3 linked regions of the Homo sapiens genome follow. The protein of the gene in region 1 interacts with the protein of each later gene in a biochemical or structural test. Each region holds a gene or a part of one and is shown on either strand. Other genes may lie near its edges.

Evidence for each region.
Region 2: the proteins of CTNNA1 (region 1) and SPTBN1 form a complex in vitro, tested with the Homo sapiens proteins (one study listed by BioGRID).
Region 3: the proteins of CTNNA1 (region 1) and JUP form a complex in vitro, tested with the Homo sapiens proteins (2 studies listed by BioGRID).

What each region holds. Positions count from the first base shown.
Region 1 is NC_000005.10:138,777,410-138,784,516, reverse strand, and holds part of CTNNA1 (catenin alpha-1), read right to left. Parts: intron 2,595-7,107; 5' UTR 2,593-2,594; coding exon 2,488-2,592; intron 1,341-2,487; coding exon 1,145-1,340; intron 1-1,144. UniProt on the Homo sapiens protein: Associates with the cytoplasmic domain of a variety of cadherins. The association of catenins to cadherins produces a complex which is linked to the actin filament network, and which seems to be of primary importance for cadherins cell-adhesion properties.
Region 2 is NC_000002.12:54,627,293-54,634,399, forward strand, and holds part of SPTBN1 (spectrin beta chain, non-erythrocytic 1), read left to right. Parts: intron 1-804; coding exon 805-958; intron 959-1,640; coding exon 1,641-2,511; intron 2,512-2,599; coding exon 2,600-2,737; intron 2,738-3,562; coding exon 3,563-4,319; intron 4,320-5,273; coding exon 5,274-5,476; intron 5,477-7,107. UniProt on the Homo sapiens protein: Fodrin, which seems to be involved in secretion, interacts with calmodulin in a calcium-dependent manner and is thus candidate for the calcium-dependent movement of the cytoskeleton at the membrane.
Region 3 is NC_000017.11:41,755,681-41,762,787, forward strand, and holds part of JUP (junction plakoglobin), read right to left. Parts: intron 3,191-7,107; coding exon 3,035-3,190; intron 2,839-3,034; coding exon 2,719-2,838; intron 2,105-2,718; coding exon 1,954-2,104; intron 1,857-1,953; coding exon 1,735-1,856; intron 535-1,734; coding exon 495-534; intron 216-494; coding exon 64-215; 3' UTR 1-63. UniProt on the Homo sapiens protein: Common junctional plaque protein. The membrane-associated plaques are architectural elements in an important strategic position to influence the arrangement and function of both the cytoskeleton and the cells within the tissue.

The sequences.
Region 1 (7,107 bases):
AAAACTGAAAAAATATTTACCATTGAAGGTTATTTGTTCACAAATTCAGAAAACAATTGGAGATGTTATCTCCATCTAAGGCACTGCCCATTTATGGGTACTGCCACAGGGATGAATTTGACATAAGACTCTGGACTATGCAATCTACCATCAGGCACGAAAGATCTATGAAGTTCTCCCAAGGGTTAGTAAAGCACCTGTAAATAGCAGGGCTCGATTTACCTTAGCTGATATCCAATAACCTAAAAAACCTACATCATTGTTGAAATTCTCCGACTGGAAAAGAAACCTAACACACAACTACAGGTTTCAAGGCCGGGCACTGTGGCTCATGCCTGCAATCCCAGCACTCTGGCAGGCCGAGGCAGGCGGATTGTTTGAGCTTGGGAGTTTGAGACCAGCCTGGGCAACTAGTGAAACCCCATCTCTACTAAAAATAAAAACTGCAGGTTTCAAGAAGTTTATCTTCCGTATTTAAAGTCTTCCTTCCACATTTGTAACATAATAAGGACAATTTTTCTAGCATTAATTATTAGTAAACTGTGGATTACCATTTTACTTTTTATCAATTCTGAATTTCCCAAAACATGATTCCTTTATACCCAGATTTATGTCAAGCTCCAACCAGTTCAAATATGCATGGCTGATTTAACATACTATTCTGACACAATAGGACAATTTCTAGAGTATTTTCAGAGTAGGTAGATATTTTTCCATTTTATCACACCCATCTCTTCAGCATGAACTAAAAAGAAGTATTACACAGGATGAAAAGTAAACTTCGGTCCCATTTCTTTCCTATCAATTTGTGTTACAACATTTCTAAGACTTAACTATTACTTGAAATACCCAAGAGAAGTGGATTCAGATTCTCCAGATGTCCCTCTGCAAGCATCTCTCATGATTAAAATGAGCCAGTCCAACTTAATACATCTCCAATAACTAAGTTACTGAGCAACTGGCAAGCATAAGAATGAGAATTAAAATATGAGCCAGTCCAACTTAATACATCTCCAATAACTAAGTAAGTTACTGAGCAATTGGCAAGCATAAGAATGAGAATACTGACCACAAAAAAAATCTTCAAACACTGATTTTCTAGAAAGGCCTGCCTCTCTTTACCTAAAAAGCAGTAATGACCTACCTTGTTTTCGAACATCTTCTACAGCAGCCACAAGCTCCTCCTTGAGAAACTGGCTCTCCTTCGCAATTTTATCCCCCTTCTCCAAGAAATTCTCAGTTGCTTGTTCAACAGATGCAGCCAAAACATGGGCCTTCTTAGAACGACCTCTCTTCTTATTAGAGGGCCCTTTACTATTGGTGTTTACAAGGGTTGTAACCTAAAAGTTTCATTTTTAACATTAAACTGGAGTCAATTAAAATGACAAACTAATATCTTTAAAGACAGCAAGATTAAGTTATTCTTTTAAAAAATCACATGAGATTCCACTGAACATTAACATACAATTCCCCATATTTAAGATATACAGCAATGATGCTATATTTAATTTCCAAAATAATTCAGCTTTCTTAATGTGTACAGAGAATTATTTAACACATATTTTAATTTCTCAAATATGATCATTAGGTTTTTAGTTTGATTTTACAAATTAAAAAATGATTAGAGACAAGTTAGATGTCTCTACTATATGTCACCAAGATGTTCCAGAAAGAGGTTAACAATGAACTTAGCTTTATCTGGAGATCACACTGCCACTGTTTTCAAACTTTGCAAAACATTTTAAGATAATTTGCTTCTGAAGTCTTTTGACAGTTTATTCACACAAATCTCAGCAATTAGTAAAGGTCCCAATAAACGAATGATTGCCCAAAGAAGCCTACAGTGATGACGCTTTATGTCTTAGAACATTACCATCATTAATACACATAATACCAGATTATCTCTAGGTTAAAGATGATGAATATATGTTATAGTGTAAATTTGCCAAACAAGACTCATTTTCTCTCTCTCTCTCTGAATCTCTCACATACAAACAATAGACATACTATTGTAAAACACTAAAAGTACACAGCTAGTTGCTAACAGTTTATGAACTACCCTAACATTGTGACATTTGTAGCATACCAAACCTAAACCCTCAAGTTGAATTACCTGCTAATTAATCCCACACAATGAAAGGTGTGTTAAGCAGAGTGAGAGACCTTAACAATCAAGGATCCAGACTCCACCTTTCTTGGGTTTCCCCTCTGAAGAAAGGTGAAGTATCTGCAAAGCACAAACATTTGCAAAGTTGCACTACATACCATGGACCCGTTACTAGCAATAAGACTGAAGAAAACGACAGCAGCAGCGTTCTCAAGGGTTAACTAAACCCATGCATCAATATTCAAATCATCTAAGAACTGTCACCTAAACTCAAGTACTGGAATTAAGGCTTTGAACTAAATAACCTTGCTCTTATGGTTGTTACCCAGGCCTGTGCTATAGAACCATGTTACAATGTATTTGTGTTTTCAGATTCTTACCTGTGTAACAAGAGGCTCCAACAGTCTCTCAACTGCCAGAGTCCTGATCTCTAGACTTTTAGGATCCCACTTGAAGTTTATGTTGCCTGCATGGACAGCAGTCATTTCTAAATAAGAAACAAAAAGTCAGTCAGGCAAACATCAAACACAAACATGAAATATGTAACAAATCTTCTCCTACTTTGGGACTTTTGCATCAGGAAAGCTATATTCACTATAGATGAAAAAATTCTAACTAGCCTACACATGAAGACCCAGTAAACCTTACAACCTCTTAATATTTAATGATTTCAGGCTTACAAATAGGAGGGGTACTACAAGAGGGCATTCCCAAACACACAGAATGTTTCCCTTTGGGCTTCTCTAGCACCAAGACTTCCTACCTCAGTTCCTACTCACTTTATCTGCCCCACCTTTAGAAACAAGATGAAAAGCTAAAGTGAATGAAAGCTACTTTCTTTTTTTTTTTTTTTTTGAGACAGAGTCTTGCTCTTTCGCCCAGGCTGGAGGGCAGTGGTGGATCTCAGCTCACTGCAAGCTCCGCCTCCTGGGTTCACGCCATTCTCTGGCCTCAGCCTCCCAAGTGGCTGTGACTACAGGGGCCCGCCACCACGCCCGGCTAATTTTTTTGCATTTTTAGTAGAGACGGGGTTTCACCGTGTTAGCCAGGATATGATGGTCTCGATCTCCTGACCTCATGATCCACCTGCCTCGGCCTCCCAAAGTGCTGGGATTATAGGCGTGAGCCACCGCACCCGGCCAAAAGCTACTTTCAAAGACACTGCTTCAAAAACGAATACAGAAGATCCTGATTTTTCCTACTCCACAACATTCATGGTACAGTAGTATCTAAAAGGTATGCTTCACTTCATTTTTTGATGGATTCCTAGAGAAGGACTTGTCTTATTCTATTAAAACATAATGTTTAAATCAGCTGCCCTCTGCACCCACAGCTATTATCACTCATAGCCAGAAGAAATTTCAAATCACACTTAGTCAAATATCACTGTATCAGTGTCAAGAGAAACTTCTGTCAGACAGCGGCTTTAAGAATAGGGAGAAAACATCAACGAAAATAACAGTTAGTCTTTTCTTCTAAAAGTAGTGCCTTCAATTATTAAAGAAAAAAAGAAAAGAAAAGGCATGAAGCTGAGGTAAACACTAATATAAACTTTCTAGACAACAAACTGCTGGTAGACATTTAAAAGCTTAAAGGCTGGGCGTGGTGGCTCACTCCTGTAATCCCAGCACTTTGGGAAGCCAAGGCGGGCAGATCACCTGAGGTCGGGAGTTCGACACCAGCCTGACCAACAAGGATAAACCCTGTCTCTACTAAAAATACAAAATTAGCCAGGCTGGTGGTGCACGCCTGTAATCCCAGCTACTCGGGAGGCTGAGGCAGAAGAATCGCTTGAACCCGGGAGGCAGAGGCTGCAGTGAGCCGAGATTGTGCCATTGCACTCCAGCCTGGGCAACAAGAAAAAAACTCCATCTTAAAAAATAATAATAATAATAAAAATTAAAAAAATAAAATCTTGGCCAGGCGCAGTGGCTCACGCCTGTAATCCCAGCACTTTGGGAGGCTGAGGCGGGCAGATCATGAGGTCAGGAGATTGAGACCATCCTGCCTAACACGGTGAAACCCAGTCTCTACTAAAAATACAAAAAAAAAATTAGCCAGGCGCAGTGGCGGGCACCTGTAGTCCCAGCTACTCGGGAGGCTGAGGCAGGAAAATGGCGTGAACCCCAGAGACGGAGCTTGCAGTAGCAGAGATAGCGCCACTGCAGTCCGGCCTGGGCGAAAGAGCAAGACTCCGTCTCAAAAAAATAAAAAATAAAATAAATAAATAAAATAAAATCTTTAAAAAGTACATTTGTATGACCCAGAAAATCTACTGCTAAAATCTTATTCTAAAGTTAAGGAACATGTAAAAACTGGGATACAATGATGTTCACAACACTGCTTTATATAAACATTAAAAGTTATAAATTACCTAAATTTCAAACAACAGATCACTCAATAAATTATGTAACAATGACACAACGGGCTACAATGTTACTCTTAAAAACAATGTTGGCAAATTAAAAAACAAAACAACCAGCCTGGCCAACATAGTGAAACCCCGTCTCTATTAAAACTACAAAAATTAGTCCAGTGTGGTGGTACACGCCCGTAATCCCAGCTGCTCAGGAGGCTGAGGCAGGAAAACCACTTGAACCTGGGAGGTGGAGGTTGCAGTGAGCCAAGATCGCACCACTGCACTCCAGCCTGGGCAACAGAGCAAGCTCTTGTCTCAAAAAAAAAACAAAAACAAAAAAAAACCAGTGTTATCAGTGCCCAAGTATTTATTTCTATTAAATACCATTTGCATGGTGGTTCATGCCTGTGATACCAGCACTTTGGAAGGCCAAGGCAGGAGGATCACTTAAGCCCAGGAGTTTGAGACCAGCCTGGGCCACACAGAGAGATCCCATTTCTACTTATTTTTTTTTTAAAAAACGGACCATTTCCCATTAATAGAAACCAAAGTTCCAGGTCTGAAGCACTGTATTGTGCGGAAAGGGGACAAGACTAACAAGATCATATCAAAAGACACAGGAAGCAAGGGCTCCCATCAGCCAAATTTAGGACAACTATCAAAGAGAATAATGACTGTAACTGTCTGTAACTAAATAATTAAATAAATATCCTTAAGACCATAGGGATCCTCAAAAGAAAGGGTATGGGGAGGGAATTTCTTTACCATGAATCTAGAATAGAATTAGAAAATGACCATCTTGCAACCCCCACTGGTAAAAACTGATCCAGCCAAGGATTAGCAATGAATGTCAAAACTACTGGGTGAAAACTGGCCAGGCATGGTGGTTCATGCTTGTAATTCCAGCACTTAGGGAGGCCAAAGTGGGTGGATCACCTGAGGTCAGGAGTTCGAGACCAGCCTGGCCAATGTGGTGAAACCCTCTCTCTACTAAAAATACAAAAATTAGCCAGGCGTAGTGGCGGTTGCTTGTGATCGCAGCTACTCATGAGGCTGAGCCAGGAGAATCGCTGGAACCTGGGAGGCAGAGGTTGCAATGAGCCGAGATCATGCCACTGCACTCCAGCCTAGGCAACAGAGCAAGATTCCATCTCAAAAAAAAAACGTAACTTTGAACTAGATCCCTCATAAAAGACTACCAACCACTGCCTTCTTCAGAGAGCTTTAGTGGAGATTAGATAGAACAAAGTATGATCCATTGACTAATGCATGAGTCCATGCTAATATGAATAAAGAAGGAAAAGTTCTTCCAAACAATAGGAAACAAACTAATAAATGTAGAAAGAACAATGTATTTAGAAAAATCAGCATTCAGGAACCATAATATTAATTGCCTCAGGCAAGAATCAAAGAATGCTAACCAAGTAGATTAGCATTCAGTTTCTCAGTAGCGTGATCTAGTGTCATAGTAACTCCCAACAGATTATTTATTTATGACAGATGGGGGAAATAGTAACTTCACAGTCCAGAAACCTGAGATGCCACCTTAACCAAGTAATCAAAATTACTGTCCCTAATAAGGACACAAACCCACATCACGTATCTCCTAACACGATGCACTGAGAAGGATACAACATCACCTCTGTGTTATTTCGCCTGAAAATTACATAACCTCAACTAGTCATGAGGCAACATCAAATTCAAAGCGTGAGACGATCTACAAAATAACTGGCTGTAGTCTTGAAAAATGTCAAAGCAGCCGGGCGCGGAGGCTCACGTCTGTAATCCCAGCACTTTGGGAGGCCAAGGCGGGTGGATCACGAGTTCAGGAGATCGAAACCATCCTGGTCAACACTGTGAAACCCCGTCTCTACTAAAAATACCAAAAAATTAGCCGGGCGTGGTGGCGGTCGCCTGTAGTCCCAGCTACTCGGGAGGCTGAGGCAGGAGAATGGCATGAACCTGGGGGAGCAGAACTTGCAGTGAGTGGAGATGGTGCCACTGCACTCCTGCCTGGGCCACAGAGCAAGACTCTGTTTAAAAAAAAAAAAAAAAAAAAAAAGACAGATTAAGAAACATTTCCCCTCCCCCTCTCCCTCCTCCCCCTCTCCCTCCTCCCCCTCTCCCTCCTCCCCCTCTCCCTCCTCTCCCTCTCCCTCCTCTCCCTCTCCCTCTCCCCACGGTCTCCCTCTCCCTCTCTTTCCACGGTCTCCCACTGATGCCGAGCTGAAGCTGGACTGTACTGCTGCCATCTCAGCTCGCTGCAGCCTCCCTGCCTGATTCTCCTGCCTCAGCCTGCCGAGTGCCTGTGATTGCAGGCGCGCACCGCCATGCCTGACTGGTTTTTGTATTTTTTTGGTGGAGACGGGGTTTCACTGTGTTAGCCGGGCTGGTCTCCAGCTCCTAACCGCGAGTGATCCGCCAGCCTCGGCCTCCAGAGGTGCCGGGATTGCAGACGGAGTCTGGTTCACTCAGTGCTCAATGGTGCCCAGGCTGGAGTGCAGTGGCGTGATCTCGGCTCGCTACAACCTCCACCTCCCAGCCGCCTGCCTTGGCCTCCCAAAGTGCCGAGATTGCAGCCTCTGCCCGGCCGCCACCCCGTCTGGGAAGTGAGGAGCGTCTCTGCCTGGCCGCCCATCGT
Region 2 (7,107 bases), on another chromosome or scaffold:
AATCATGATGCACATTGTAACTCAGTTGGTCCAGAGACTTCCTCAGAAGTAAGAGTGAAGTAGAAATCTCATCTGGCGAGGATGTAGAATGAGGCCCCCAAATTTCGCTGGTTGATGGAAGAAACAAGAAAATATCAGTGGGTTCAAACTTAAACTCTAGAAGTTGCTTGGGGTCTACTAAGCAAGACAGCCACCTGACCCTGCTCTCCTTATTGGTTTAAAGATGTGGCTTGTAAGCTTTTCAAGTAGATTGTTTTCCCATTGATTGTGTAAGTACAGTAGAGGCATACCAATAAGCTCCTAACAGAGGAAAAACATTCACTTACAGGCTCAGCAACTTCTAAAAGATTTCTTTCAACTTTGAAGTGACCAAGTCTATCACCTTTATTTATTTATTTTTGAGTAGTTGTTGCAGCGGTTTCTTCTTGAAGCTCCAGTTTATATTTTGGAATCTTTCATACAGCACCCCCGCCCACGCTCCCCACTGCCCCCTCCCCCCCACCCTGGCCCCGCTGGCCCTCACCATCTTTTTCTTCTATTCTGCACTTTTTAGTGTAGATTTGACTTACTTATTCCAAGTTTGGTGATCCTTAGTTTGTGATAGCTCTCCTGACTCAGGCCTTCAGGTATGATTTGTTTTGTTCTGGTTTGTTGGCCATCATCTTCCCCTGAAGGTGTGGGGTCCATGGCAGACTAGAGGGAAGGCATAGCTTCATTGCTGGCTCTCTGCTTGTCGAAAGATGATGTGATGCTGAAGTCAAGGCTATAGTCACAGATGTCCTTTTGGTTGCTTCTTGTGCACAGGTGCTAGTATTGTCTCAAGACTATGGCAAACACTTACTTGGTGTGGAAGACCTGTTACAGAAGCACACCCTGGTTGAAGCAGACATTGGCATCCAGGCAGAGCGGGTGAGAGGTGTCAATGCCTCCGCCCAGAAGTTCGCAACAGACGGGGAAGGTAAGGATGGCCCATTCCAAGCATTACCTCCGGGTCACCAGAGATTCATATTTATAGAAACACAGTGGGGCTTTTGAAGTTACTGTGCCACTATACATTCCTGGTGGGTTTGTCATGGGAGCATGAAATACGGTGGAGTGGCCTTCTGAACACTAACTCCATCTTGTTTTTCTGGAATTGATACATCCTTTCCTTAAATACGCAAATGCTGCCTTTGCTTTGAGTGGCTTGGTGTTTGGCAGTGAGACTTTGTCATACCTCAGTCTCTCTGGCCATGCACCGACACCCTGGTGTGGCTGTTCCAGCAGCTCCTGGCTTTCACAGCTGGTTGCATATACCTCTCTTTGGAGGATGTTTAGAATGATTTGGTTATGCTTCGTGTATTTCTAGAAACAATTATATGCAGCTGCCTTTTTCATATGATTCAAGTGCTTTCTTGCAGGAGGATGATCACTTTGTCTGCGGTTTGGCCAAAAAAAAATAATGTTTATCATTGCCCTCACTCCTGTTCTAGTCAAGTTGTTAGAAGGTGCTCCATTGCCTTATCGCATGGCCCTGCATTTACATTTAGCAGTGAGCTGGTAATCATAAGAATATGGGGTGTAGCTTACTGCCTGCCAGTGAGCCTGCACCCATGCTGAGCTCCCTCACACAGCCACGTTCCTTCCTTGATGTTAAACAGGTTACAAGCCCTGTGACCCCCAGGTGATCCGAGACCGCGTGGCCCACATGGAGTTCTGTTATCAAGAGCTTTGCCAGCTGGCGGCTGAGCGCAGGGCCCGTCTGGAAGAGTCCCGCCGCCTCTGGAAGTTCTTCTGGGAGATGGCAGAAGAGGAAGGCTGGATACGGGAGAAGGAGAAGATCCTGTCCTCGGACGATTACGGGAAAGACCTGACCAGCGTCATGCGCCTGCTCAGCAAGCACCGGGCGTTCGAGGACGAGATGAGCGGCCGCAGTGGCCACTTTGAGCAGGCCATCAAGGAAGGCGAAGACATGATCGCGGAGGAGCACTTCGGGTCGGAGAAGATCCGTGAGAGGATCATTTACATCCGGGAGCAGTGGGCCAACCTAGAGCAGCTCTCGGCCATTCGGAAGAAGCGCCTGGAGGAGGCCTCCCTGCTGCACCAGTTCCAGGCAGATGCTGATGACATTGATGCCTGGATGCTGGACATCCTCAAGATTGTCTCCAGCAGCGACGTGGGCCACGATGAGTATTCCACACAGTCTCTGGTCAAGAAACACAAGGACGTGGCGGAAGAGATCGCCAATTACAGGCCCACCCTTGACACGCTGCACGAACAAGCCAGCGCCCTCCCCCAGGAGCATGCCGAGTCTCCAGACGTGAGGGGCAGGCTGTCGGGCATCGAGGAGCGGTATAAGGAGGTGGCAGAGCTGACGCGGCTGCGGAAGCAGGCACTCCAGGACACTCTGGCCCTGTACAAGATGTTCAGCGAGGCTGATGCCTGTGAGCTCTGGATCGACGAGAAGGAGCAGTGGCTCAACAACATGCAGATCCCAGAGAAGCTGGAGGATCTGGAGGTCATCCAGCACAGGTGAGCGGGGCGCTGGTCAGCCACTGGCCTGTTCCTTGTGACCACCAGTGGCCCAGGAGGTGACCACCCTGTCAAATTGCCATTTCAGATTTGAGAGCCTAGAACCAGAAATGAACAACCAGGCTTCCCGGGTTGCAGTGGTGAACCAGATTGCACGCCAGCTGATGCACAGCGGCCACCCAAGTGAGAAGGAAATCAAAGCCCAGCAGGACAAACTCAACACAAGGTGAGCACGTGGCCAGCAGTGTGCCAGCCTCCCACGTGTGGGACTGGGGAGGGTGAGGTCACTCATCGAGCTTTGCTGTTGGGAATTTCCCACATGGGGTCATCGACATTGCAACACTGATGTCATGGCATTGGCACCTGCCTTTTGACATGTCCTTGTTTTGTAAGAAGTGTCTCTCAGGGCAACATCATTGGTTGCAGGAGGATTATCTGAGTCAGCCCAGCATCTGCCCCTCGCCACACCAAAGTTAGGGCCTTGGTTTGACCTGTGTCCAGTGTAGAAGGTATTAAGATGACACCTGTGCTATCCATTTTATAGTAACTTCAGGAACAGGACTCTAGCATGTTTAACACTTAATTTGCCAATGAAAGTCCTGATTGTCAGGGCAGACCTTTGTTCCAGTCTTATCTTTCTGTTGAGTAAACATGTTTGAGTAGGTTATGGCACCTGGCCCCAGTTTTGAAGGTTACCATCAGTCTTAGATTTGGAAAACGTTCATTAGGTAGAGTTCAGAGATGTGTAAAATGTGTCACAGACATGAATTAATTGACTCTGGGAATGGATATCTTGTAATTGCTCACATTGGAGCTCTGTAACACATTCCTCTTCGTGACAGGCTTTTTCCAGATTACATTGCATCCCTGAGCTATTTCCATTATATTTGGTGTTCACAGTTTGAGTGAGATGATTTTCCAAAAAAGCATGTAGTCAAAGCACAGATGGAGAAAACAGATAAGCAGCATTAACCCATCACTGTTCCTTTTGCAATCCAGCCATGGTCAGTCTTCCCTTTTTCACACTCGCTGTCTGCCCCTGCACTCACAGGTGGAGCCAGTTCAGAGAACTGGTTGACAGGAAGAAGGATGCCCTCCTGTCTGCCCTGAGCATCCAGAACTACCACCTCGAGTGCAATGAAACCAAATCCTGGATTCGGGAAAAGACCAAGGTCATCGAGTCCACCCAGGACCTGGGCAATGACCTGGCTGGCGTCATGGCCCTGCAGCGCAAGCTGACCGGCATGGAGCGGGACTTGGTGGCCATTGAGGCAAAGCTGAGTGACCTGCAGAAGGAGGCGGAGAAGCTGGAGTCCGAGCACCCCGACCAGGCCCAGGCCATCCTGTCTCGGCTGGCCGAGATCAGCGACGTGTGGGAGGAGATGAAGACCACCCTGAAAAACCGAGAGGCCTCCCTGGGAGAGGCCAGCAAGCTGCAGCAGTTCCTACGGGACTTGGACGACTTCCAGTCCTGGCTCTCTAGGACCCAGACAGCGATCGCCTCGGAGGACATGCCAAACACCCTGACCGAGGCTGAGAAGCTGCTCACGCAGCACGAGAACATCAAGAACGAGATCGACAACTACGAGGAGGACTACCAGAAGATGAGGGACATGGGCGAGATGGTCACCCAGGGGCAGACCGATGCCCAGTACATGTTTCTGCGGCAGCGGCTGCAGGCCCTGGACACTGGATGGAACGAGCTCCACAAGATGTGGGAGAACAGACAAAATCTCCTATCCCAGTCACATGCCTACCAGCAGTTCCTCAGAGACACGAAGCAAGCCGAAGCCTTTCTTAACAACCAGGTAAGGTTTGTTCCTGCCTTTGCTTCCTTTCGGTGAAAGCAGCCCTGGCTGCCTTTTGAAATGTTTTGGCTGGGGCAGCTGGTTTAAACCACACCTGTATGGAATTATATGGATAATTTAGAGACTGATTTTTTTTTCCCCATACTCTTAAGGCATTGAAATCCATCACGTTGTAGGGGACAGGAATTGAAAGTTGCCATAAGAGCTGCTTTGCCTTACAAAGTACTGTTTGATTTCAACTGCCATTGAGGATCTCTTATGTGTTCATAGTATGTCTTCATAATTGAGGTATTGATCCAATTTAAAAGATACAGTGAGGGCCAGGCATGATGACTCACTCCTGTAATCCCAGCTCTTGGGGAGGCTGGGACAGGAGAATCACTTGAGCCCAGCAGGTCAAGGGTGAAGTTAGCCGTGATCGTGCCACTGCACTCCAGCCTGGTGGCAGGGTGAGACCCTGTCTCTTAAAAAAAAAAAAAAAAAAAAAGTACGGTGAGGATTTTTTTTTTTCTTGAGACCAGTCTGTCTTCTTGCTCTAGAAGGGTCAGGGACTTCACCTGAGGACACAAAGTAGAGATTAGAGAAATAAAAACAGCTGAGGATAGTCACCAACTTCAGGGCTGTTACTGTCTCAAAGAGAGAGTATGAAGGGTACATTGCTGTTGCCTTGATAGGCACGTGAGAGGACCCTTGAGGCTGATACACAAAGCTTTGGTTCCTTTCCTCACTCTCTTTGGAAAAAAAAATTTAGAGCATTAACCCCTGAGGGAAATTCGGTCAGTTACAGTGTCCCACTGGGTTTTTTTCCTCCTAACTTTTAATTTGATGTGATTTAATTATTTCATGTAAGTGTAATGAAGAAAGTGTTGTGAACTATGTTGCACGGAAATGTAGAACACAGGAAAATGAGATCCTTCATTGATCTGCTATGATTTGTTCCTCTTTTTAAATAAGGAGTATGTTCTGGCTCACACTGAAATGCCTACCACCTTGGAAGGAGCTGAAGCAGCAATTAAAAAGCAAGAGGACTTCATGACCACCATGGACGCCAATGAGGAGAAGATCAATGCTGTGGTGGAGACTGGCCGGAGGCTGGTGAGCGATGGGAACATCAACTCAGATCGCATCCAGGAGAAGGTGGACTCTATTGATGACAGGTACAGTTTTCTGAGGTTCTTAAGGGAGCCTTGCACCTTGGGGCTCTCAAACTTCTGAATCATTGGCCAGAAGCCCTTGGGAGTTTAGGTATAAATTTCCCAGTGGGCAGAATATGGGTGCCCAGCAGAAGTTCATCTACCCATACAGAAAATTAGTGAGCTGTGCATGACTGCCTGAGAATGTGGGTCTGGTGAGACATGTACAAGTGTCCACAAAAGGAAAGAAAGCCTGAGAAGCCAAGCTAATTCTTAACCGAGGACCTGTAAGAGCCGTAGTGCTGCATCGCGATCAGGTGTAAGCCATGCCCTTTGAGGATTAACACACGCTTGTGTCACCTGATAGGACCCCTGGCGCCAGGTATTCCCAGCCAAGCCCGTGTTCCCCTTCATCCATGAGAAAGAAGCCTGTCAGGAGAGTGGGAAGGGAGGGTGAAGCTTGCTTGTTCTGAGTACCTGGCAAAGCTACAAAGGAACATTACCTGGACTTTTTTAGAAAATTGGCTTGGATAGTGCTGTAATAGGATCTTTTTCATGATGGAGAGGTAAATAAGAGCAAAGGTTATTTTCCTCTTCTGCCAGGGCATCTCCAGGATTGGATACACTTTCTTCATTTCTTGTTTAAAATTATTTTTTTATTTACGTGTGTGTGTGTGTGTGCGTGTGTGTGTCTGTCTGTCTGTCTGAAAGATTTCCTCCCCGGCTGGAGGCCAGTGGACTCTGTTTGACCCTAACTCTTTGACTCACTCCTTACTCTTGCCTTGCCCCGGTTACTTAAGTTGGAGGTTGGGGCAGATCAGGGGTTGGATGCACTAGCACAGGCCAGTCTGGGCCAGCCACTGGATCAATCACTAGCCCCTGTTCCAGTTTGGGTTGAATTTAAGGGCTTGCTGTGAGACTGATGTAATCAAAAAACAAGCCCTTCCTTTCTGCCTCTCTTCTGGCCTTCAAGTGTGTTGGAAAGGAAAAATATTCCTTTGCTTACCACATCTGAGAGGGTTTCCTGGGACCCCTGGTCAGGTTGACTTAAAATAAGATGGGTGGAGAGGGGATTACTCTGTTTCCAATAAAGATTGAGCTCCTGTCTTTACCACTTCCAATCTTTTTTTCTGAGCTGATTCCCAGGCTGAACTATATGTTCTAGGGTGGTATTGTGGAATAGAGAATAACTTATGTTAATTATAATTTTGTATCTGTTGCTTTTAAAACAGCTGCAAAAAAGAAAAATAAATCCACCAAACCCTCCTTAAATGAGCATGAGAAACAGCAATTGGGCAAAGCATTCATAACCTAGGGAAAAAGAATTTCCTTTTTTTGTAATATTAACTCTGAGTATTTTGTAAATAAGATATCCTATGTACTTCCATGTTAGATGCACACAGCTGGTTTCCTGCAGGCGGGCTTGGCTGTTAGGGATGTGTGCATTCAGGCAGGCATGCAGCTGCCTTGCTGCTTCCTCGGTTTCTTTTTATGTCCCCAGTGCTGCAACTGCACAAAGCTGTTGGAAGCAGATGATGCTGTCTAGACTCCTGGATATGATAAAACGTTTCAGCAGCAGCAGCCCTCAGTTGTGGCTTAACCTTCATTTTGCCCTTGACCAAGAGCCTGGGCTACTGGTGTTCCAGAGCTTCCTT
Region 3 (7,107 bases), on another chromosome or scaffold:
AGAAGGAGGTTCTAGAGAGGAGGAAAAGCCTGCAAAGAGGGGGCCGTACTGGGGCCAGGCCGCCTAGGCCAGCATGTGGTCTGCAGTGGGGTACGGGGGCCTGAGGCCGTCGCTGTAGGTGTCGATGGGGTAGTCTCCATCCATGTCCATGTGCATCTCCAGCGGGTCAAGGGGCACATCGCTGGAGTACATGGGGCGGTAGGTGGCATCCATGTCTGGGGACAAAAAGTGGGGCTCGGTCCTAGGGTCTGCAAGCTACCCTGCAGGGAGCAGTCTGCACAGCCTTCAGCTGCCTCCTCTACCCATGCCCACCCCTGGTGGGCCTGACCCCTCCCCAGACCCCACACCAGGGCATCTAGACTGGGGTACATGTGGATGCCACACAGCAGTTGCCACTGGTCCTCTGGCCCCGGAGACATAATATTGTCCCCTCACACACACCCACACAGCCGCCCAGGATCTCCAGGGTCCTGAAGAGCCCGGCACACACTTACCATCTCCATAGGGCTCATTGATGGGAATCATGCTCTGGGCCTGAAAAAGGAGAGAGAAACATGGAGGGGAGGTTTGAAAATGCAGGCTCCGAGCTGGATCTCAGCTGGTGGGCAGGGAGAGATGCTTCTAAAAGAGGGGGCCAGGCTGGGTGCCATGGCTCACGCCTGTAATCCCAGCACTCTGGGAGACAGCAGGCGGATCACTTGAGGTCAGGAGTTCCAGACCAGCCTGGCCAACATGGTGAAACCCTGTCTCTACTAAAAATACAAAAAAAATTAGCTGGGCGTGGTGGTGCAGGCCTGTAATCCCAGCTACTCGGGAGGCTGAGGCAGGAGAATTGCTTGAATGGGGAGGCAGAGGATGCAGTGAGCCGAGATTACACCATTGCACTCCAGCCTGGGCGACAGGAGTGAGACTCTGTCTCGAAAAAAATAAAAAATAGGCTGGGCGCAGTGGCTCACGCCTGTAATCCCAGCACTTTGGGAGGCCAAGGCGGGCGGATCACAAGGTCAGGAGACAATCGAGATCATCCTGGCCAACATGGCGAAACCGCGTCTCTACTAAAAATAGAAAAATTAGCCGGGTGTGGTAGCGTGCACCTGTAGTCCCAGTTACTCAGAAGGCTGAGGCAGGAGAATTGCTTGAAACCGGGAGGCGGAGGTTGCAGTGAGCCAAGATCACACCACTGCACTCCAGCCTGGCGACAGAGCAAGACTCCATCTCAAAAAATATAAAAATAAATAAATAAATAAAAGAGGGGGCTGGAGAAAAGCAAAGAGGCCTTGGAGGAATAGAGGATGATGAAATGGGGTCACCCAGTGCCCTGATATACTCATGTCCTCGGTACTCCCCAGGGAGGAGGGTTCCCCACTCATGAAGCAGGGACTCCTGCCGGACTAGAGCAGCTCAGGGGAGGAGGCAGAGGACTCAAGAATGGGTACAGGGCACTGCCCCACCCTGGAAAAGACCGCCCATAGCCTATCCAGCACCTCCACGCAAATTACAAAAAGGCACCCCCACCTCAAACACTGTATACTCATTTGGGCAAAATAAAAATTGGCATTTTGTGGATATATGATTCAACCCACTACTTCCATCTGCTAGGAATTGTTATAAATGATCCAATTACAAAATAAAAATCTATGAAGTTGACAGTAGTAGGAGACCCCCAAAAGTGTTGCCCATGGGCAGTGCCCAACTTGCACAACCAACTACTGTGGTCCAACCTAGGATACTCACAGCCTCCCAGGCAGCCGGGTCATGCTTGAAGAGGGAGTTGGTGAGCTCCACGGACACGCGCTTCCGGTAGTCTGGGTTCTTGTCCTCGGAGATGCGGAACAGGACGGCAGCAGCGTAGGTGGCTGAGCAGAGAGGAAAGGAAAAGCCAGGTTAAACGTCGGCCAGCCTCCATCGTGGCTGGGGGAGTGGGACCCAGCCTCCTGCCCTCCCCCAGCTCACCAGTGCCCTCGTTGCGGGAGTGCAGCAACTCCATGAGTGGGGCCGAGGCCCCCTCTGCATCAATGGCGTCGGCCGCCTCCTTGTCCTGGGCCAGCTCACACAGCACCCCGGCAGCCACGCGCTGGATGTTCTCCACCGACGAGTACAGGAGCTGGGGAGAGGGGACGTGGGAAGCAGGGGAGAGGTGGAAAGGGGTGAGGCAGGCCGGACAACACACCCCACAGCACTGCCCACCTCCACCCTGTAGCAATTCCATAGTGGAAAATGGGCCGTCACTGGGGAGTAAGTGTTACTGCTTTAAACTGGGCTGAGCATTGTTCATGAGCTACCTTGAAATTACCTGTGACTCTGCCTCATCTAACCATTGGAATCTAGTGTTAATGAGCTCACTGATGTGAAAGATGTTAGACTCTTCTTGTCTGTTATGGTACTTGCACATATTCTCCCAGTTTGCTGATTTTTTAAAAATGCTTTTTTAGGTTCTTTCTGAAATACAGATGGTTTTCATGTTTATATGGTTGAATCTCAAGTTTTTTTGTTTTTTGTTTTTTTTTTCCATTTGTGATCTCTTTCCTTGCTTTGAAGCTTAGAAAGCCATGCCCATGCAGGGGGTTGCTAAGTAGTCAATCTGGAGTGGCAACTTTCCTCCAAACTCCTCCAAAGACCTCTTGATACCTGGTCCAGGCCTCCCAAATCTGGGACTCCTAACCTTGCCCTTTAAGCAGTGGTGGGGGGACCTCTCCTGCCCACCTGCCCCAGACTCACCTGCACAAACAGGGGAATGGTGTTGAGCCGGAAGATCTCCATGCGGTTCATGGGGTCCCGGGCGAGGATGTGCAGTGCTCCGGTGCAGCCCTCCACAATCTCCTCCATCCTCACACCATCCTGTGTGAGAGGAGGCAGGGGGCATGGGACAGGTGCCTTGGACATGGCCACAACTCCTCCCCATGACAGCCGAATGAACTTCACAGGTTCTTGGAATTGGCATCAGTTGCAACTGACCTCCCCATTCACACACACACCCACAGAGGACACCCTGACCCCCCAGGAAGGCTGTCAGAGGCACCACCAGCTCACATACCGTGTAGGGCTGCTGTGTGCCTGCAGCTACGTGGCGCTGGGCATCCTGGTGGGCCTTCACCAGCAGTTGGACGAGGCGGGGGATGACCGCTGCCTCCTGCAGCGGGGCATGGTTGGCTGGGCACAGGGCCAGATTCCTGATCAAGCCGATGGTTGCCTGGCAAAAAAAGGGGCAGTGATCAGGGGCACTTCTTGGACATCTGAAGGATCCCAGCTTCCCAGCTTCAAGTATCCCTTCCCTCCTTCACCTCTTCTGTCCCCGAGGCCAGACACAGACATACTGGAAAATATCCAGAGAAGGAGACCATCCCAGCCATGTCACTTAATCCACAGGATCTGGGAGTGCTCATGGCTAATTCTTTTTTTTTTTTTTTTTTGAGACAGAGTTTCGCTCTTGTCACCCAGGCTGGAGTGCAGTGGTGCAATCTCACCTCACTGCAACCTCCACCTCCTGGGTTCAAGCGATTCTCCTGCCTCAGCCTCCTGAGTAGCTGCGATTACAGGTGCCTGCCACCATGCCCAGCTAATTTTTTGTATTTTTAGTAGAGACGGGGTTTCGCCATGTTGGGCAGGCTGGCCTCGAACCCCTGACCTCAGGTGATCCGCCTGCTTCTGCCTTCTAAAGTGCTGGGATTACAGGTGTGGGCTACCACGTCCGGCTGCTCATGGCTAATTCTAATAGCCCTTGCTAAAATGACACCCCATTCCAGAACATCCTGCCAGCCCCATGCCTGGCCCCTCACCCTGTCCCCTCTTTCTTAACCACCCCCCACAGACACCATGACCTTGCTTGCTTTTCTGATAGTCCTCCAAGCCTGATTCTCAGGAATTCTGTGCTCTAGGTGCCCCCGAAGCCTCCTGCTTGGGTGGTGCTCACATTGTCATTAATCCCCAGCAGGGCAGCTCTGGAAAGAGGTGTCCTGAGATCTCCTCCCCAGGGTCTTTGACTCAGAGGAGCCACTCTGGCCTCCCAGAGCCTCTCAAGGTGTCATCTATTTCATCCTCAAAACAAGACGCCAGGAGGACAGGGATGAAAATCATGTGAGATGGGGACGTGAGCACAGGGCAAATGACTTGCCAAAGTCACTTGCCACTTAGCTGCTGGGTTAGGATGCAAAGTCCCACCTCAGGTTTGCAGCAGGGACCAAGCATCAAGGAGGGGTCACAATGACATTTTTTTTTCTAAACATGAATTTTCTTTTTTTAATTCAATGTATAGGCCGGGCGCAGTGGCTCACGCCTGTAATCCTAGCACTTTGGGAGGCCAAGGCAGGCAGATCACTTTAGGTCAGGAGTTCGAGACCAGCCTGGCCAACATGGTGAAACCACGTCTCTACTAAAAATACAGAAATTAGCCGGGAATTGCTTGAACCTGGGAGGCGGAGGTTGCAGTGAGCTGAGATCATGCCACTGCACTCCAGCCTGGGCAACAGAGCAAGAATCTGTCTCAAAAATAATAATAATAATAAAAAATAATAATTCAATGTGTAGAATCACTTAGAGTCATTCTTATCTGCACTGGGTTTTTTTTGTTTGTTTGTTTTTTTGTTTGTTTTTTTTGAGACGGAGTCTCGCTCTGTCGCCCAGGCTGGAGTGCAGTGGCGCGATCTCAGCTCACTGCAAGCTCCGCCTCCCGGGTTCACACCATTCTCCTGCCTCAGCCTCCTGAGTAGCTGGGACCACAGGCGCCCGCCACCACGCCTGGCTAATTTCTTTGTATTTTTTTAGTAGAGATGGGGTTTCACCGTGTTAGCCAGGATGGTCTCGATCTCCTGACCTCGTGATCCACACGCCTCGGCCTCCCAAAGTGCTAGGATTACAGGCGTGAGCCACCACGCCTGGCCATGTTTTTTGTTTTTGTTTTCCAAGACGGAGTCTCTCTCTGTCACCCAGGCTGGAGTGCAATGAGCGATCTCAGCTCACTGCAACCTCTGCCTTCCGGGTTCAAGTAATTCTTCTGCCTCAGCCTTCCGAGTAGCTGAGATTACAGGCACATGCCACCATGGCCAGCTAATTTTTGTATTTTTTGTGGAGGCGGGGACTTACTATGTTGGCCAGGCTGGTCTCGAACTCCTAACTTCAGGTAATCCTCCCGCCCCGTCCTCCCAAAGTGCTGGGATTACAGGCGTGAGCCACTGCGCCTGGCCTGTCTGTACTATTAAATTGTCTTAAATGTAGCTGGCGGATGCCCCTGCCAGCTGGCTCCTGTGCCCGTTGACAAGACCCTCATCGATGGTAGCTTCCTCACTCTCTGGCACCAGATGCCACCTTGCCTTTGGCTGCCTTCCTTGTCTCTACATATAGATATACACACACACAAACGCTTTCCCCCATAACTCTGTCCCTTGGGTCTGCCCACACCCTGACCCACTCTCACTTCCCCCACCTGACAGGGAAGTGACACACAGCTAGCTCTCTTCCACCCAGGTAGCCTCAAGAAGAAGACCCCACTCCTTCACACACCCAACTCCCTATGGGAGATGCTAAGCGTCCCCAGAATCCTCTGTGCCCTGTGTCTCTGTAGTGGCTCTCCTGATTTTCAGCAGGACACACGGCCATCTGGCTGGTGATCACACTTCCTAACCTCCTTGCACCTTGATGTGGCTGAATGACCAAGTTCTGGGGTGTGAGCAGGAGTGATGTGTGCCACTTTCTGGTGGCCGCTAGCCATCCCCAGTTCTCAGGGCTAGAACACATCCGTGGGGATGATACAGTCCACTCATTCGTGTGAGGACAACCCTCTCGTCTACACCCAGTGGCATAAGAAATGTGCTCCATGGAGCAGCACCTGCGAGCTTGTTAAAAATACAGAATTGGGCCAGGTGCAGTGGCTCACACCTGTAATCCTAGCACTTTGGAAGGCCAAAGTGGGTGGATCACCAGAAGTCAGGAGTTCAAGACCAGCCTAACCAACATAGAGAAATCCCGTCTCTACTAAAAAATGCAGGAGAATCGCTTGAACCCGGGAGGCGGAGGTTGCAGTAAGCCGAGATCGCACCATTGCACTCCAGCCTGGGCAATAAGAGCAAAACTCCGTCTCAAAAAAAAAAAAAAAAAGAAGAAATACAGAATTGTCCGGGCCTGGTGTCTCACACCTGTAATCCCCGTACTTTGGGAGGCTGAGGCTGGTGGATCACTTGAGTTCAGGAGTTCAAGATCAGTCTGAGCAACATGGCAAAATCCCATCTCTACTAAAAATACAAAAATTATCCAGACATGGTGGCGTGCACCTGTAATCCCAACTACTCAGGAGGCCAAGGCAGGAGAATCACTTGAACCCGGGAAGCAGAGGTTGCAGTGAGCCAAGAATGTACCACTGCACTCCAGCCTGGGCAATAGACATTGTCTCAAAACAACAAAAAAAAGACATACAGAATGGCAAGCCCTCTGCAGCAGGCCTGCAGAGAGACAGAGAGAGAGAGAGAGAGAGAGAGAGAGAGAGAGAGAGAGAGAGAGAGAGAGAGTGTGTGTGTGTGTGTGTGTGTGTGTGTGTTTTAGATTGTTTATTTGTTTGGGCTTTTTTTTTTTTCCAAATTTTTTGTAAGAGATGGGTGTCTCACTATGTTACCCACGATGGTCTCAAACTCCTGGCCTCAAGTGATCCTTCCGCTTCCGCCTCTGCCTGCACCTCCCAAAGTGCTGGAACTACAGATGTGAGCCACTGCACCCAGCCTCCTGTTTTTCTTTTCTTTTAAGACACGGGTTCTTGCTCTGTCACCCAGGCTGGAGTGCACTGATGCAATCATAGCTCACTGTAACCTCCAACTCCTGTGCTCAAGCGATCCTCCGACCTGAGCCTCCCCTCCCCAGTAGCTGGGACCACAGGCGTGCACCACCACACCTGGCTAATTTCTGTTGTTGTTATTGTTGTCGAGACAGGTCTTGCTATGTTGTCCAGGCTGGTCTCAAATTCCTGGCCTCAAGCAATCCTCCTACCTTTGCCTCCCAAAGTGTTGGGATTACAGGCATGAGCCACCGTGCCTGGCCCTGGAACCTGCAATTTAATGAAACCACCCAGGGTACTCATGTGCATTTTGAACTCTGAGCTCTGCCCTAGGGGCTGGTAGAGCTACA